Linked DNA regions of Homo sapiens: region 2 is linked to region 1. The links come from fine-mapping of genetic effects on gene expression. A gene starts in region 1. The other region holds a variant in brackets. All regions are shown on one strand. Distances are between the middles of the regions.

The links. PIP is the estimated chance that this variant, and not a neighbour inherited with it, causes the effect.
Region 2: its variant is fine-mapped to the expression of ST6GALNAC2 in whole blood (TOPMed, PIP above 0.99). The same link has a PIP of 0.9 or more in sun-exposed skin and unexposed skin.

What each region holds. Positions count from the first base shown.
Region 1 is chr17:76,582,484-76,590,739 of GRCh38, forward strand. ST6GALNAC2 (ST6 N-acetylgalactosaminide alpha-2,6-sialyltransferase 2) reads right to left here and starts at 3,377. Exons shown (of 9, transcript NM_006456.3): 1 at 3,201-3,377. The coding sequence starts at 3,325. RefSeq lists silencers at 3,134-3,473, 3,524-3,813 and enhancers at 3,682-4,363, 4,364-5,044.
Region 2 is chr17:76,561,099-76,569,485 of GRCh38, forward strand. It overlaps ST6GALNAC2 (ST6 N-acetylgalactosaminide alpha-2,6-sialyltransferase 2), which reads right to left. Exons shown (of 9, transcript NM_006456.3): 7 at 7,615-7,698; 8 at 6,355-6,454; 9 at 4,279-5,173. The coding sequence ends at 5,006. It overlaps LOC122455342 (testis-specific serine/proline-rich protein), which reads right to left. Exons shown (of 1, transcript NM_001395979.2): 1 at 7,699-8,387. The coding sequence ends at 7,699. SNHG16 (small nucleolar RNA host gene 16) reads left to right here. Exons shown (of 3, transcript NR_038111.1): 2 at 190-300; 3 at 2,021-4,250. SNORD1A (small nucleolar RNA, C/D box 1A) reads left to right here and starts at 535; the gene lies at 535-608. It also overlaps SNORD1B. RefSeq lists enhancers at 5,660-6,160, 6,161-6,661. The variant A/G (reference allele first, on the strand shown) is at 4,033.

The DNA of each region.
Region 1 (8,256 bases):
CTTAGCCCTAAAATGTTCTCTTTTTAAAAACATAACGTTGACAATGGATAGTAACTGGCAGCCCTATGTTGATTCTCACTCTCCTATTAAACAACAACAACAACTTTTAATAGAAATGCCCATGTGGGGACCCACTGATCCAGATTCTGCCATGAGGAAATGCCCAGACTGGGCTCCACTCTAATCTGCACTAAAGAGCCCTCTCCTTGGGCTCTGTAGACCCTGTCCCAGATGCCCATCTTCCTGGACTGTCCCCTGTAGCCAGGCATGTCCATTTGCAGTCCCAAGCTGGGGAAGCTCATGTGGCCTGCCGGCTCTGCCCAGAATGCCGTCCACCTCCCACTCTCTCCCAGACTAAATATCCACCTCCCACAGCAAGGCTGAGTCCTGACCTGCCCCGCATTGGGGTTTAAGCTACAGTGCAAATACAGAGAAACAGCAGGAAAGGGCCAGGTGCTTGAGTCATACTACATTTTGAAAAGAGGAAAGATCTTTTTTTTAAAAAAGCATTGTTGCATTATAATAGAAGTATAGTAAACTTCATACTTAAAGTCTATTAGATACCCTGAAACAATTTTAATTTGTGTTTTTTAAAAAATGTATTACTCGGGGCTGGGCGCGGTGGCTCACGCCTATAATCCCAGCACTTTGGGAGGCCCAGGTGGACGGATCACGAGGTCAGGAGATCGAGACCATCCTGGCTAACACGGTGAAAACCTGTCTGTACTAAAACATACAAAAAATCAGCTGGGCATGGTGGCGGGCACCTGTAGACCCAGCTACTCGGGAGGCTGAGGTAGGAGAATGGCATGAACCCGGGAGACAGAGCTTGCAGTGAGCCGAGATGGGGCCACTGCACTCCAGCCTGGGCGACAGAGGGAGACTCTGTCCCAAAAAAAAAAAGAAGATAATGTATTACTTGGGAGGCTGAGGTGGGAGAATCATTTTAGCTCAGGAGGTGGAGGTTACAGTGAGCCAAGATAGACCCACTGTACTGCAAGCCTGGGTGACAGAGTGAGACTGTCCCCAAAAGATTATTTTTATAAGAAAAGGAATTCATTTCTTACAGTTATGGAGGCTGGGAAGTCCAAGGTCGAGGAACCACATTTGGTGAAGGCCTTTTTTTTTTTTTTTTCTTTTCTGCTCCTTGTGGAGCAGGGCTACCCCATAGGCAGTGGTCCAGGGCAGCCAGAGGGCCTTGGTGTTGGTGGGGCAGGACGTCACATGCAGAGTGGGGCTGAGTTGCTAGATCAGGTCTCTTCCTTTTTGTAAAATTATTTTTAATTGGCACATACTTGCACATATGTATAGGGTACAGTGTGATATTTCTTTTTTTTTTTTTTGAGATGGAGTCTCGCTCTGTCACCAGGCTGGAGTGCAGTGGCGCGATCTTGGCTCACTGCAAGCTCCACCTCCCAGGTTCACGCCATTCTCCTGCCTCAGCCTCCCGAGTAGCTGGGACTACAGGTGCCCGCCACCACGCCCAGCTAATTTTTTGTATTTTTTAGTAGAGACGGGGTTTCACCGTGTTAGCCAGGTGAAAGCCAGGTCAGGAGGATCTCCTGACCTCGTGATCCGCCTGCCTCGGCCTCCCAAAATGCTGAGACTACAGGCGTGAGCCACCGCGCCCGGCCACAGTGTGATATTTCAATACGTGTATGTAATGTGTAATAATCAAACCAGCTAATTAGCATATCCATCACCTCGAACTTTTTTTTTTTTTTCTGGAGACAGGACCTTGCTGTATTGCCCAGGCTGGAGTGCAGTGGCGCGATCACAGCTCACTGCAGCCTCGACCTCCCAGACTCAAGGGATCTTCTTGGTCAGCTCCCGGAATAGATAGATGGAAGCACAGGCATGCACCACCATCCCCGGATAAGTTTTGTATTTTTGGTAGAGACGAGGTTTCGCCATGTTGCCCAGGCTTATATCAAACATGTATTATTTCTTTGCATTGAGATACTTTGTGTTTTAAACATCTTTACATAAAAGTGACAAGGATTCCTTTTCTTTTGAGACAGGGTCTCTCTCTGTCAACCAGGCTGGAATGCAGTAGTGCAATCACAGCTCACAGCCTCGAATTCCTGGCCTCAAGCTATCCTCCCACCTCCGCCTCCCAGAGTGCTGGGACTACAGGCGTTAAGTCACCGTGGCGGGGCAAGCACCCTTTGTTCTAAGAGTGCTGGACTCCTGATCACTGGCAAGCTGTTTCACATTGTTCTGCAACTTTTGGTGTATCCTTTGACAGCATCTGTGGAGACCAGATACTTATTTTGTTTTCATCCCGTTAGCCCCCCAGCAAGGTTGGTAGGGGGTGCGCAGATGGAAAAGCTCCAGGAAGGGAAAGGCTGGGGCTGGAGGCCTCTCCCTGAGGCTGCCGGGCCCTTCCCTCCTCCCAAACCCAGACTTCGCACGGCTTGGTCCGCCTTTCTTAAGCTAAGCGAAATCGTTTTGCGGCTTCTTCAGTCACCGGAACCACCACCTGCTAGAGGCCGGCTCCCAGGTTCTCCTCGTGGGACACCCAGGAAAGTGCCTAGGGAGGAGGAGGGAGTGGAGCGCAGGACGCGGCGCGGGGAGGAGAACGCGGATGGAGCCAGGAGTCACCCCTCTTTCCCTCGGGCGCCCGCCTCTTCGCGGATCGCGCCCGCACTGGGCTTATCCAGACACGGCGAGCGGAAGCCGGGGAGAAGGGAGCGGGCGCGGGGCGGACAGAGACCGCAGCGGGCGGGAAAGGCGACTGGCCGCGGCCCGACGGAGGGTCCCCGCGAAGTTGGAAACCGGAGACTTGGGCCCCTGCCCAAAAAGCAGAATCTGACGTTACCGAGGGAGAGTTCCCGACAAAAAAGGAAGTTTTTATCTGCTTCGGGGACCCAGCCAGATTTCGACAATAGAAAGTGTACTTATCAGGCCGGGGAGGACTTCACCAACAAGGGGCACCGGGGCGGGTCGCCAGTGCACAGGGGCGAGGTCTTCCTTGGACCCAGGCAAAGGCCGCGGGGTCCGGGCAGCGCGAGGTCAAGGCTGGGAGAGGGTTCTGGCGACAAAGGGCCGCGGCCGAGTCCTCGCTGAGAGCTGCCCCAGAGGGGTCCACGCGGAGGTTGGGCTGAGGGCTGCGGGCCGCCGGGGAGCCCTGGGCTGGGGACCCTCCCCGCGCCCTGGTCGCCCCTGCGCCCTCCCGCTCTGCGCTCGGCAGCCCCTACCTGGCTCCGGCCGCTGGCCCCGGGTACCGCTGCACCGCCGAGAAGTACAGGGCAAAGAGGAGCCCCGAGCAGGCAGCCGTGAGCAGGAGCAGCAGCCAGAAGAACGACCCGCGCGGGAGCCCCATACAGCCCCGGCCCGCGAGCGCCCCGTCCGCTGACGTCCCAGGCAGAAGGGAGAGAACCGGGTGGGCCGGGTGGCACTTGCGGAGGCGGCCGTCTTGCCCTGCCCCGCCCTGCCCGCCGGGTGCCTGCGGCGCCTGCCCGCCCGGCAGCTCCCTCTCGGCCCCGGCTGAGTGGCCAGAGGCTGCCGCACCCTCGGGAGCTGGGCGGCGGGTCCCCCGGGGCTGGAGTGTCGTCCCGGCGCCCAGAGCGCGCGCTCCTTTGGCCCTGCCCCCTGCCCGGGGGACTTCGGCAGCGGCCACTCCTGCCACTGCGCTCTCTCCAGAGCCCAGCCCCGGGAGGCCGCCAGTCTCGGGTTGGGCAGGGCGCTTTCCTCGCGCCGTCCGGGGCTAGCTAGGCGCGGGTAGACGCCGCCACCTGCTGCGCTGGCTGCGCTCTGCCCTCTGCGGGCCCGGCACTCGGCCTCTAGACTCTGTGGCGGGTGGGCGGCGGCCGGGAGGAGATGTGCCCGGCTCCCTCCAAAGGACCCTCAGATCTGTCAGTCTGCGGACGCCAGGACAGCTGGGAGGGGGCGGGCAGGGTGGAGGAGCAAAACCCGACAGCTCAGTCTCTGGGCTGGCGGTAGAGGGGGGAAAAGGGGGTGAGGTGGGGAGCTTGCCGTGATGGGTTTCGTGGGGGAGCTAAGGCTGTCAGCGCTTATTTGGTAACCATCCAGGGTGGCCAGTCCCCTCAATCGCATTGAGTTCCTTTCACAGAACGAGGCCAGTCAGAGAGACCACCTGAAATGTTCAGCACAACGGGTTCCCAAACTTATTGGCACCAGGGACTGGTTTCCTGGAAGACAATTTTTCCACGGAGGGGGGTGGGGGTGGGGGGGTTGGGGATGAAACTGTTCCACCTCAGATCATCAGGCATGAGTTAAGATGCTCTCATAAGGAGCCCGCAACCTAGATCCCTGGCATGCGCATTTCACAAAAGGGTTCGCACTCCTTTGAGACTCTAATGCCGAGGCTGATCTGAAGGAGGCGGAGCTCAGGCGGTAATGCTCCTTCCCCCTCCACTCACCTCCTGCTGCGATGCCCTGTTCCTAACAGGTCTCGGACCAGGCTTGGGATTGGGGACCCCTGGTCTAGCAGGCTCCAGCATCAGAAAGGGCTGGGAAGCTCAGCACCCGTGCTCTCTAAGTGGAACACTCCCTGGCAGTGAGTGATGGATGAGATGGGTGTGCTTCAGTGGCCACTGTTCGGCAAGCTGTGACATGCGGCAGGCTGTGACATGCCCCAGACTCCCAACTGTCAGCAGGCTGCAAGGATGAGAGGGACCTAGGCTACCGTGTCACGGGCCTTTGGCTCTAATCTGTTCTTCATGTATCCGAGGAAGTCTGGGTGCAGCAACAGGTACCTGTCTGATTGCAAGGCTTCCCGAAAACCTCCCAGGGCCTGGGCCTGTGGTCAGGAATGGCCATTCAGTCCATCCAGTCTCAGTACTCCTACCAAGTCAGGGTCACTGGAGGTCACTCACATTGGGCCAGTTCTTTCCTTCACCCCAAGACTGCTCAGCAGAGCCAGACTCATCTTGCTACCCCGCAGATGGGCACTACTTGGAATTTATGGTGTCACGACTTTCATTTCAATCTTTATGGGTTTACTTGTCAAAATTCCTGTAGATGTTACTTATCCCCTGATCACTGGCTTCTCACATTTCCTCAGACCTTCTCTCTGTGCCCATAAATATCCCTCCTAGCCCTTGCTCTCAGTAAGTGCCTTACCCTCTACTTCATGGAGAAAAGGAGAATCATTCATTAGTAATTTATTCAACTTCCACTTACAAACCTACAAACTTGGCCCCCACACACAGCCCAGCCTCTCCCTGCCGGGACTCTAGTCTTTTTTTTTTTTTTTTTTTTTGAAACAGCCTGTTACCCAGGCTGGAGTGCAGAGGCGTGATCTCGGCTCACTGCAACTTCCACCTCCCAGGTTCAAGCGATTCTCCTGCCTCAGCCTCCCCAGTAGCTGGGATTACAGGAGTGCACCCCCATGCCCAGCTTTTTTTTTTTGTATTTTTAGTAGGGATGGGGGCTTTACCACGTTGGCCAGGCTGGTCTCAAACTCCTGACCTCAGGTGATCTGCCCACCTTGGCCTCCCAAACTGCTGGGATTACATGTGCGAGCCACTGCGCCAGGCCTCAGGACTCCAGTCTTAAGAGCTGGGGAGAGGGTGCTCTCCTCCTGTGTGGGAGTTAACCCCCTATCTGTGTTAATAATCCAGGTCCACCTCCAATGCCTTAAATGGCAGTACTCCCCTCACACCAAGATCTCCTATCCACCCACCTGGAGTTCTCCTTCCTCCCATCTTCAGCCTCACAGGACCTCCAGGGTCTCCATCCTTCCCTTTTCTCCCAGTGGGCCAACCCTCTCTCAGCAGCTTTCTTTCCTATCTAGGCAGGACTCCCTGGGTTATAATCTGAGCTACTCCTGCATCAGTAACCCAGATTCTCTTGTGTTCCTGGCTTTCTTCCCAGCAAAACTCTGACCTGGATTCACTCTTGCCTCTGCCTCTCCTGTGCTGCCTGTCCCTGGCCTGGCTGAGTGCTGCAGGGGTCAGGGGTCAGGTGTAGCTCATTCCAGAGTGTGAATTGGGAACACAAGTTTGGCCTCAGCTGGCTCTCAACATCAGCCATTTCCTTATCCTTGCTCAGCTCCAGCTTCTATCCTGCTCAACAATGATTCTAGAACTTACTTCTTTCCTCAAGCCTCCTCTTTTCCCAGCCATACCTGTGAGAAAATGCAGCCCATCAGGAGTGACCTTCAACTTCCCATGCCCCCAAGTTCAAAGTCATCTTTTGTTAAGAACTGTGCAGATTTTGCTCTCCTTACAAGCTAACCAATGAAACTGCCATAGTTCTGTGGATGCTGGTAGAAGACACAAGACTACTGGATCAGAGACAAAGGACTTTATTACTCATGGTGCAGCAAGCAACATAGGCATCATGTTTGTGTCACTTCTCTTTACTCCTCAAGCCCCATGAGAGTGATACAGAGAGGCCCAGGTGAGTGTTGCACACACAATGGGTTTGCAGCACAGCTGAGAATCCCTGAGATAAGGAAACCAGAATCTTTTATAATGGGCTGCAAGCAAACCTGCTCTTGTCCAAGAGGGAGACATTATCTTTATTACGTTGGATAGTGAGGAAATCTGCCCTCTGCTCCAGAGGGAGGCACTATCTTTATCTTCCAAGGCAGTCTGCTGTACCAACAATCTTTTTTTTTTTTTTTCTTTTTTAGACAGAGTCTCGCTCTGTCGCCAGGCTGGGGTGCAGTGGCACGATCTCGGCTCACTGCAAGCTCCACCTCCCGGGTTCACGCCATTCTCCTGCCTCAGCCTCCCAAGTAGCTGGGACTACAGGCGCCCGCCACCACATCTGGCTAATTTTTTGTATTTTTAGTAGAGATGGGGTTTCACCATGTTACCCAGGATGAACTCGATCTCCTGACCTCGTGATCCGCCCGCCTCGGCCTCCCAAAGTGCTGGGATTACAGGCGTGAGCCACTGCACCTGGCCTATACCAACGTTCTTGAAAAGAGCCTGGAACAAAAGGTCAGTTGGTCCCTCTGCTCACAGCATGATCCTGCCCATGCACCCTCACCTTATTGCTCCAGACTCTCCTCCTTCCAGGGAGAGCCAGCCTCTTCACTGTGACCTCCCATTCTTCAGCTCTTGCTTCAGCAGCCCTCCCTGCCCCCTCTGCAAGGTCCTTATCACAGCCTATGAACATGCCCCAAATAGCTCATCCTAAAAAGCAAAGCAAAGCAAAACAAACAAAAAACGCCATGGAGCTGGCCCCCTTCATAGCTACTCTCTTTTTCTTTCATCCAAGTTCTTGGTAGAGAGTCTATTCTGTCTCTGCTTCTTTTTGCATCTGACTTCCTTACCTACGATGCCATTGAAATTGTACCCACTGAAGTCACTAGCAACCATCATCCTTCCAAAGGGAGTCCACATTTTCCAGTTCTAATTCTGCTGCATCTGTCTCTCTGAATTTGACACTTAGCTCCCAGTAATTCCAGCCTGCAACTCTTTGTTCTCATGGTTTCAACAACCAGCTTTCTGTTTGTGACTCCTGAATTAGTCTCCATCTGAGGCCCAGATCTCTATCAGCTGCAAACCTGTTCAGCTGTGTATAAAGGCATCCCTGGAGACCTGCGTTACTTTTTTCTTTCTTTCTTACTGTTTTTTTTTCTTTCTTACTGTTTTTTTTTTTTTTTTTTTTTTGAGTCAGAGTCTCACTCTTGTTGTTCAGACTGTAGTACAGTGGTGAAATCATGGCTCCTGCAGTCTTTTTCTTTTTTTTTGAGACGGAGTCTCACTCTGTTGTCCAAGCTGGAGTGCAGTGGCATGATCTTGGCTCACTGCAACCTCCACCTCCTGAGTTCAAGCTGCCTTGATTCTCCTGCCTCAGCCTCCCAAGTAGCTAGGACCACAGGCGTGTGCTACCATGCCCAGCTAAGTTTTTGTATTTTTAGTAGAGATGGGATTTCACCATGTTAGCCAGGATGGTCTTGATCTCCTGACCTCATGATTTGCCCGCCTCAGCCTCCCAAAGTGCTGGGATTACAGGCGTGAGCCACCGTGCCCAGCTGGCTCCTGCAGTCTTAAACTCCTGGGCTCAAGCGATCCTCCTGCCTTAGCCTCCCAAGTAGCCAGGTCTATAGGCATGTGCCACTATACCCATCTAATTTATTTTTGTTTTAATTTTTGCAGAGACAGGGTCTTGCAGACACAGAGGGCCTACTTCTCATGGGTTTTTCAGGGCTAACTATGGGACTTGAGTATGTGTGGATTTGGTTTGGTTATACGGGCAGTCCTGGAACCAATCCCCCATGGATAATAAGGGATGACTGTATGTAAATACAATTATATAATATATAATTATAAA
Region 2 (8,387 bases), 21 kb before region 1:
TTGGTGGGAGCTGAGTCCATGATGATTTCAAGTTATCCCTGTCTGAAGGCAAAGAAAGGCCTTTCTGTGTGGAATTTGAATATCTGAAACTCAGTTTCCCAAGTTTGCCTTACAGAAATTTTAAGTTACTTGAGAGTTACTCTGTGTGTATCTTCTTAAGTAGTTTTTTTTCTTAATTTCTCTTCCCAGGTGCAGTCAGCCTCAGTTTCCAAAGCCGGAAAAGGATCCTCTAGTAGCCACGGTGTGGCAGCTGCTCTGAACCAGGACCTGGACCCGGACCCAAAGTGCCATGTCTTTAATGTGAGTAAGTAGACGAACTGGTAAACAGGCTTGGTTTGGTTTGGGGGAGTGGTAATCTTTTTTGCTTCCCCTGCTCTGGACTTAAAGCAATGGGGGCAGGGAGACTTTAGTAGCATTTTGTTGCTAGGTGTCTGCAATAAGAGACGAAACTGAACTGCTTTGCCGGAAACAAGTGAAATGATTGCTTTCCTGTTTGTAAGATTTGTTTACATCTTTCGTATCCGTAAGAAGTCCCACAAGCCTATGATGGTTAGTTATCCCTGTCTGAAAATCTGGACTGAGGGAAATAATCTATTCTGAGGCTTAAGGGTTTGGCTCCATGGTTTTTTTTTTGTTTTTGTTTTTTTTCCCCTTTTTTTTTCCCTCAGCATATCCTGCTGAGAGCCCAGTCTAGAGCATCATTCCTCTAAAACGTGAAAAGCAAATGAGTGATTGTCCTGCTTTCTCTAGTCCTTTGATTATGGCTCTGAGGATACAGGCTGTATGAGGTGGCAGGAATGCACAAGTACCCAGGATTTGATTTATGCCCTTATTGTGGAATGAAAGTGCTTGTTACATATTTCAAGAAAATGAATGCGCTCTTAGAAACAGATTGGAATGTAGGATGTATGCCAGCTTGTGGCAATGAGAATGCTTAATGACTCTGACCTTGCCTCTGCTCCAGGGTCCTGACATTTAGGGGAAACCACGGCTGTTTGGTTTCTATGTGCTTTGTTAAGGACGCCAGGGAGGTCTCCTAAGTTTGTAGCTTAGATCCTGTCTGAATGTCACGACTGGCATGTGAGCAAGAAAGAAACCAAGTGGTGCTGGAGAGTGGGGTGCCCAGCTTTGTTCCCACTGGAATGCCAGGCTTGAAGTGCACACAGATTGCCTTTCTTTTCTGTTGAAAGGGGAGGTGTGGGCCGGGCGCGGTGGCTCACGCCTGTAATCCCAGCACTTTGGGAGGCCGAGGCGGGTGGATCATGAGGTCAGGAGATCGAGACCATCCTGGCTAACAAGGTGAAACCCCGTCTCTACTAAAAATACAAAAAAATTAGCCGGGCGCGGTGGCGGGCGCCTGTAGTCCCAGCTACTCGGGAGGCTGAGGCAGGAGAATGGCGTGAACCCGGGAAGCGGAGCTTGCAGTGAGCCGAGATTGCGCCACTGCAGTCCGCAGTCCTGCCTGGGTGACAGAGCGAGACTCCGTCTCAAAAAAAAAAAAAAAAAAAAGAAAGGGGAGGTGTGTGCAAACTCTTTGTATTTAAGGTTGTGTTTTTGCTGGACACCAAAGAAGCTGTATTCTGGGTGAGATTTAATGAGCCTAAAAACTGGCCCCAGTAGTTTACAGCCTGCAAGTAAAACAGTGAAAAGGGTAGCTTATCAAGTGGTTATTGTCTGCTGAGTGGACTTGACTACAGAACTCAAGTAAACCATAAGATTTGACTTGAAATGTTTCTATCCAGAGGGAGTGCTTTCTGATAGTTGTTTACTGGCCTCTTACCAGAAACTGCTCCCTCAGAGATACTGTCTCCTTAAAATGAGTCATCCTGGATCTCCACCAGCCTGCACCAAAATGGTGTGATAGTGCCCCGTTACGCTCCCCCAACGCGCACATGCCTGCCGGTGGTGAGAGTGAGTGCTCTTGGACTGACTGCCTGTTCTCCCAAATTAGTTGTTATATAGCATTCAGTTTTGAGTCACTTCCTTGGCTGTTACTTCAAATTATTCTTCTGTTTTATAGGTTAGCTCCCAGCGATGCCAGATGGGATCAGCACAGCCCTGCCTCTGCTGCTAATTGTTCCTCTAAAGTAATCGCCATGCGTTCTTTGGGCTTCATCTTTAAAGGAATGAAGCAACTGAGATTATTCTGGAAAACCTTTTGGCAGTTAGTGAAATTAGAGTACAACTAAGAACATTTTCAGACCTCCACTGTGGATGACCTGGGTATAATCTCACAAATCGATGGGACTGCAAGGATTGTAAACTGAAATGAACATGATTATACTCTGTTGGAAGAGCCTAAGAGGAAACTGATGCCATGAGTTTCAGAGAGTAATGCTTAACCCCAGTTACACAGGATGCCGTCTTGTGTTTCCTCTTGTTTAGTTACCCACTACAGTGATTTTGTGATCTGCTAATGGGTTGCCACCCACAACCATTGCTTTAGCACTTTTACTTCAAATCAATGAAGGATTGATAAAAGTTCTCCTGGTGTCTCCGCAGAGTGCCTTCCAGGAACAGATCTTTGCATAGAATATCAGTGGTTTCCTTTTTTGTTTCAAATAGTGGTCAGAAAATACCCAGTGTTGACTCACCAAGGCAATCAGCTTCCTTTTTCCCTTTTTTTGTTTTTTTTTTAACATTTTATATTTTTGCTTTATTTTATTTTATTTTATTTTATTTTATTTTATTTTATTTTATTTTTTGAGACGGAGTTCCACTCTGTCGCCAGGCTGGAGTGAAGTGGTACAATCTTGGCTCACTGCAACCTCCACCTCCCGGGTTCAAGCAATTCTCCTGGCTCAGCCTCCTGAGTGCTGGGACTACAGGCGCGTACCTTCTTTAGTAGAGACTGGGTTTCACCATGTTGGCCAGGATGGTCTCTATCTCCTGACCTTGTGATCTGCCTGCCTCAGCTTCCCAAAGTGCTGAGATGACAGGTGTGAGCCATCAGACCCAGCATTTTTTTTTTTAATTTAAATTTAAATTTTTTTTCATTTTTTTGAGAGGTTTTTTTTGTTTTGTTTTGTTGTTGTTGTTGTTGTTGTTTTTGAGACAGTCTTGCTCTGTCACCCAGGCTGGGAGTGCAGTGGCATGATCTCTGCAACCTCTACCTCCCAGGTTCAAGCAATTCTTGTGCCTCAGCCTCCCAAGTAACTGGGACTACAGGTGCACGCTACCACACCTGGCTGATTTTTTTTGTTTTAGTAGAGACAGGGTTTCAACCATGTTGCCCAGGTTGGTCTCAAACTCCTGAGCTCAGGCAATCCACCCGCCTTGGCCTCCCAAAGTGCTAGGATTACAGGTGTGAGCCACCACACCCAGCTATTTTTTCTTTCGTTTTTTAATTTTAAAGTTGGGGGGGGGTCTCAATTTGTTACCCTGGCTGGTCTCGAACTCCCGGACTTAAGCGATCCTCTGGCTCCAAGCCCACTACCAGTCTCAGGTTTCTTTACTAAAAGATCACTACCTTTTTTTCTCTTATCTGCTGCCATGTGAGATGTGGCTTTCACCTTCCGCCATGATTGTGAGGCCTTCCCAGCCATGTAGAACTGTAAGTCCAATAAACCTCTTTTGTAAATTAAAAAAAAAAAATCACTATTTAAGATACTAGGATGGATTGTGACTGTTGAGGAGTACTTACATATCCTACATTTGACTACATTATTTCCAAACCAAGTATTCCATCCAAAGGAACATACTGCTATCATAGAGACCAAGGAGGGACTGTTTAAGGTTGCCAAGGTGAAGCGAGCTGAGAGGCTTTGTCCTCGTGCCAGTAACTCTGAAATCTCTCTTAATTCCTGCTGTCCAGGCAGCAGAATGCCATGGTTTCCCCAAGTAGGTAGCTGCTTTAGCAGTTAAAGCCCAAATGTCTGTTCTGTTGATCAGAGGTCTCTGAATTTCTGAAGTGGTGTTTCGTTTCTGGTGACTGAGTTAATCCTTTACAATCCCTCTTGTAAAGTGTGCTAATAGAAAGAATCCACCTTTCAAAGCTGCAGAACCAGACCGTGCCCTAAATTGACCAACGTA[A/G]CTGATGTGCCTCAGGAAGTCTCTTGCCAGCTGTCCCTGTGAAGACCCCCCTCCTCCCCCCCAGCTGCTGCCTTGCACACTGAAGCATCTCAGACTGTGCAAAGCCGTGTAGTCATCAAGACAGTAAATCCCAGGGCTTGGTTAAGTGCTGTGTGATAACTTGTTTGGATGAGACTTAACTTAAAACCACTTACAATAAACTTGGGAAACTACCGTCAGCTGAGTTCAAATTTACTGACGCCATGATATGAGGATGAAGGTTTATTACCTGGTGACATCATCCTGTTGGTGACAAGGTGGTGATACATCTCTAATGGGACTTCCCTCAGTGGCAGGCAGGCTGCCAAGCAACTAACCCCCATCAAGTGCCAGACCCTCCCAGTGTTCTGAGAGTCATCTCCATGCTAAACAGCCTGCGTTTTATATGATTTCTCTACCCAGCCAAAAAAAAAAAAATGGTCCATCATGTACGCAGTTATCTAGTCTTAAGTTATATTCTGGCTTTTTTCTCCCACTTTATTATGGAGCAGAAGTAAGCCTATCATGTTCTTAGAAAGGCTCTTAAGAGGTGTCCTGGAGTCCTTGAATCACTTTAGCATCTGGGGTAGGATGTGCCACCAGGAGGATTTGGGCTGGAGCGTGTGTGTTTGCCTTTGACCTGGACTGCTGTCTGATCTTGCTGAACACTCCACCGACATTTCCTAAAGTTGCTCAGTGCCAATCCAGCAAAGCAGTCCATTTTCCCTTGGCCAAGATTGAGATGTATTGTTTTAGATACAGAAGAGTTCTTGGATGAGCCAAGGACAAGCTGGGGTGTCCTATATTGAACAGACCTCGATGAAAATCTTGAATTCACCCCAGTGCCCTCTGTTGGCAAGGGAAGGTGAAGATTGAAAAGTTAAAAAAGCTTTTGGCCACTTGAGAGGATCAGGGCCGCAACTCTTGAAGAAGCAAAGGGCTCAGTGCATTGGGGTCAGCGCTGGTACAGCTGAAGGATGCCGGCCTTGTGCAGGTCCCTCCACAGGGCAGCTTCCAGGGACAGATCGTGGTTTGCATAAAATATCAATGGCTTCATTTTTCGTTCGAAATAGTGGTCGGAAAATTTCCAGTAGTTGCTTGTGATGAATCCATAGGCACTGACCTGGGCAAGGATAGTCGCTGGATTAGTATTTGTTGAGCGTCTAGTGTGTACAGACACTTGGGTGAAGTGACATGAGTTTAGAAAGGTGTCCGTCTGCTGAGGTGAGGATAATGGTCTAGGGCTTATTCCCACTTAGCAAGTGGGGAGATGGATTCAGGGGTGACTCACTGTGTCCCCACTTGGCATAGCTGGTGATTGCCAGAGCTGGATTTGGAACTCAAGGGTGGAGGCAAAAGCCCATTACTACTCTCTCCATCCTAACTGGGGACTGCAGTCAAGACACTCCTGCATCAGAATAGGAAAAGGCCCTGTGTGGTGGCTCACGCCTGTAATCCCAACACTGGGAAGCTGAGGTGGGAGGATCACTTGAGCTTGGAAGTTTGAGACCAGCCTGGGCAACATGGTAAGACCCTGTCTCTACAAAAAGTAAAAAAAAAAAAAAAGAGCTGGGCGTGGCAGTACATGCCTGTGATCCCAGCTACCCAGCTACTTGGGAAGCTGAGGCAGGAGGATCATCACACCACTGCACTTAAGCCTGGGTGACAGAGTTGAGACCCTGTCTCAAAAAAGAGGGAAAAGATTTAGGTGTGAGTCGTGGAGAGGCATTTGGCCCCCAGCTCTCCATACCAGCTTTAGCATGGGTCACGGCCTCTCCTTGAAAGCTGCTGCTTGGCCCCTGCCTCCATGAGCTTCACGTGGGTCATATCCCATCAGGAATGACTCTTAACGGTGATTTCAAAGTAGTTGCATGTGGGAGGCTAAACCTGCTGCCCTACCCCAGCTCTAGGATGTCCCCATAAAAGAATGTCCCTATTTGGCCCAGTATGTTGAGGACTTTGGCTTTCACAAGGGCAGTTTGATGATTTGAGCCTTAAATACCATACTGAGTGGCTGCCTTGGAGAAGAGTGAAAGAAGGAAGCCTGGGGCAGGTGTCAGGAGCCAAGGCAAGCCTGAGGCAGGTGTCCGGAGCCAAGGCAAGGCTGGCCCAGGACCTGTCCTTCAAAGGCCCCAGGGTTGTGGGCAAGGAAGTGAGCAGTACCAGCAGCACTCTTGGAACTGGGGATTCCACGAACAGAGGCCAAGAGTCCCAGCTCCGAGGTAAGGGATATCAGGGGATCCTGTTGGGTTCTGTTATCCTGTGTTCTGCCGGCATGGGCTTCTGGAAGAGAAGGCCTCTTACCTGGTCACAGGTATGCAAAGCTGTCAGCAGCATGAGAGCCCCGGTACTAGGCATATATAGGTCTCCAAAATGTGTGTTAATCAACTTTGATTTCAAGAACCTGGAAGCAAAAAGAGACATTTCAGCTCACTAGCTTGATGGCTATCATCACACTTCACAACTACACATTCAAATAGGTGGGAAAACTTCAAAAACTGAGGGCCTTCTACTCCAGTCAGTTCTTTATTCGGTCCAAGTGGACTAAATACAAAGATCTTTGAGACCTTAGGTAAGGTTGGGGGAGGGGGTGGTGAGAAAGGAACCACAGGTTCCCCCTTTTGGCAACAGCTTGTTTTCACCCCAAGCTACTAAGTAACCACACTGCCAAGGGCATAGGTGGCCTGTTTATTTAGCCTGAGACTGCAGTTTCTCTCTACTCCACATCTTGATTAAGTAGGAATCACGTGTGAGGGACAGGGAGCTCAGACCCTGTGACCGGACCCACACAGTCCAAGAGTGAGGCCAGGGTGTGACCACGGGCTCTGCCCTCAGGCCTGAGTTCACATCGAGCTGTGCCAGGCCGATCACCTGACCTCTCAGAGCCTGTCTTCCTCTGTAGCACGGGACTAATTAGAGGGGCTTCATTTGCCTCCCCACATCCACACACCCCTCTCCAACTGCTCCCTGCCCTGGGATTCGAGCCTCTGGTCCACAGCAGGGTTTCTCAGTCTCAGTGCTGTTGACACTTGGGGCCAGGTGCTTCTTGTGATGTTCAGCAGCATCCCTGGCCTCTACCCACTGATGGCACTTGCCGCCACCACCCTTGTGACAACCCCAGACGAGGACCATATGCACATCCACATTGAGAACCCCTGGCAGGAGGGAGGGAAGGGGGTTGAGGCTGGTCCCCGGGTTCCTTCCGGCACCTTGTGTTGGCTGTGTTTGGGCCTGAAGGTTCTGATGCCCTGCTGCTGACGGCGCCACTGCTGCTGTGCACCTTATGGTCCCAGCTCCCAGTCTGTGCCTTTGTATAAACCTCCTTGAGTTATCCTGAGTTTCCTGTCCATTTCCTGGTGACTGACATATATCACCCTCCCTCTATCAAGGTGCTAAATAAAACAGTAAATGAAGTGACAGTGCTTTGCACACAGCACTCGGGACAGTGGAGCTCTGGTTATCGGTCAGTGCGTGGGGCTCGTGCGAGGGCGCTGACTGGATGTGGGTGGGTGTGTAAAAGGGGGAAGGAAGGGGACGCTGTTCTTCAGGCACCCCACTCCGTACCTTTCTGTCAGGTAGCTGATGAAGTCCGGATGTAGCAGCTTGAATTTACTGGCAGAGGCTTCTGGTCCAAAATAGGCGTGCGGCCTAGGACCCATGATAGAAGTGGACAGAGCGCCCAGAGCCGTCGTATTGCAAGGGGGAGATGGAGGGGAGGGTCAGGGCGCCGGAGTAGCCGCGGTACCCTGAGCGGTAGGAGCGGGGCTGGGAGTAGTAGCGGGAGAAGGGGGTGTAGAAGGTGGCAGGCAGTACGTTGGGGACCACGTGCGGCTTCCCGCTCACCAGGACCTCCACGGGCGGGGTGTAGGAGAGAGAGGAGGGGGGCATGAACAGACCGGGGGGAGTTGGGAAGGGGCAGTTAAACTGGGGGTGGTGGGGGGGCGGGGGAAGGAGAGGTAAGTAGAGTGAGTCAGGAGGGGGTGGGGGCTTCCGGGCAGGGCAGGGAGAGGGACAGGCAAAGCATGGGTTTTGGGGAAGTGGTGCTGTGGGGGGCTGGAAAAAGGGGGGCTCCTTCAGAAAGCGGGGCACATAGGGGGTGATATAGGACGGGATGTTCTGAATTGGCCCGATATAGGAAGATGAGGTGGCAGGGCTGTAGAAGGAGGACTTGGGGGGCACAGCGGGGGTTAGGGAAGGGTTTCGAGAGAGGGATTTGAAACCAGACTGGGAGGGAGATTTGGAGGTGGGTGGGGTGGGGGTTTGGGCAGCCCCGCGGGGCACGTGTTGGACCTGAGGACTGGGGTTCAGGGACGAAGTCCGGGAAGAGGGCTGTGAGG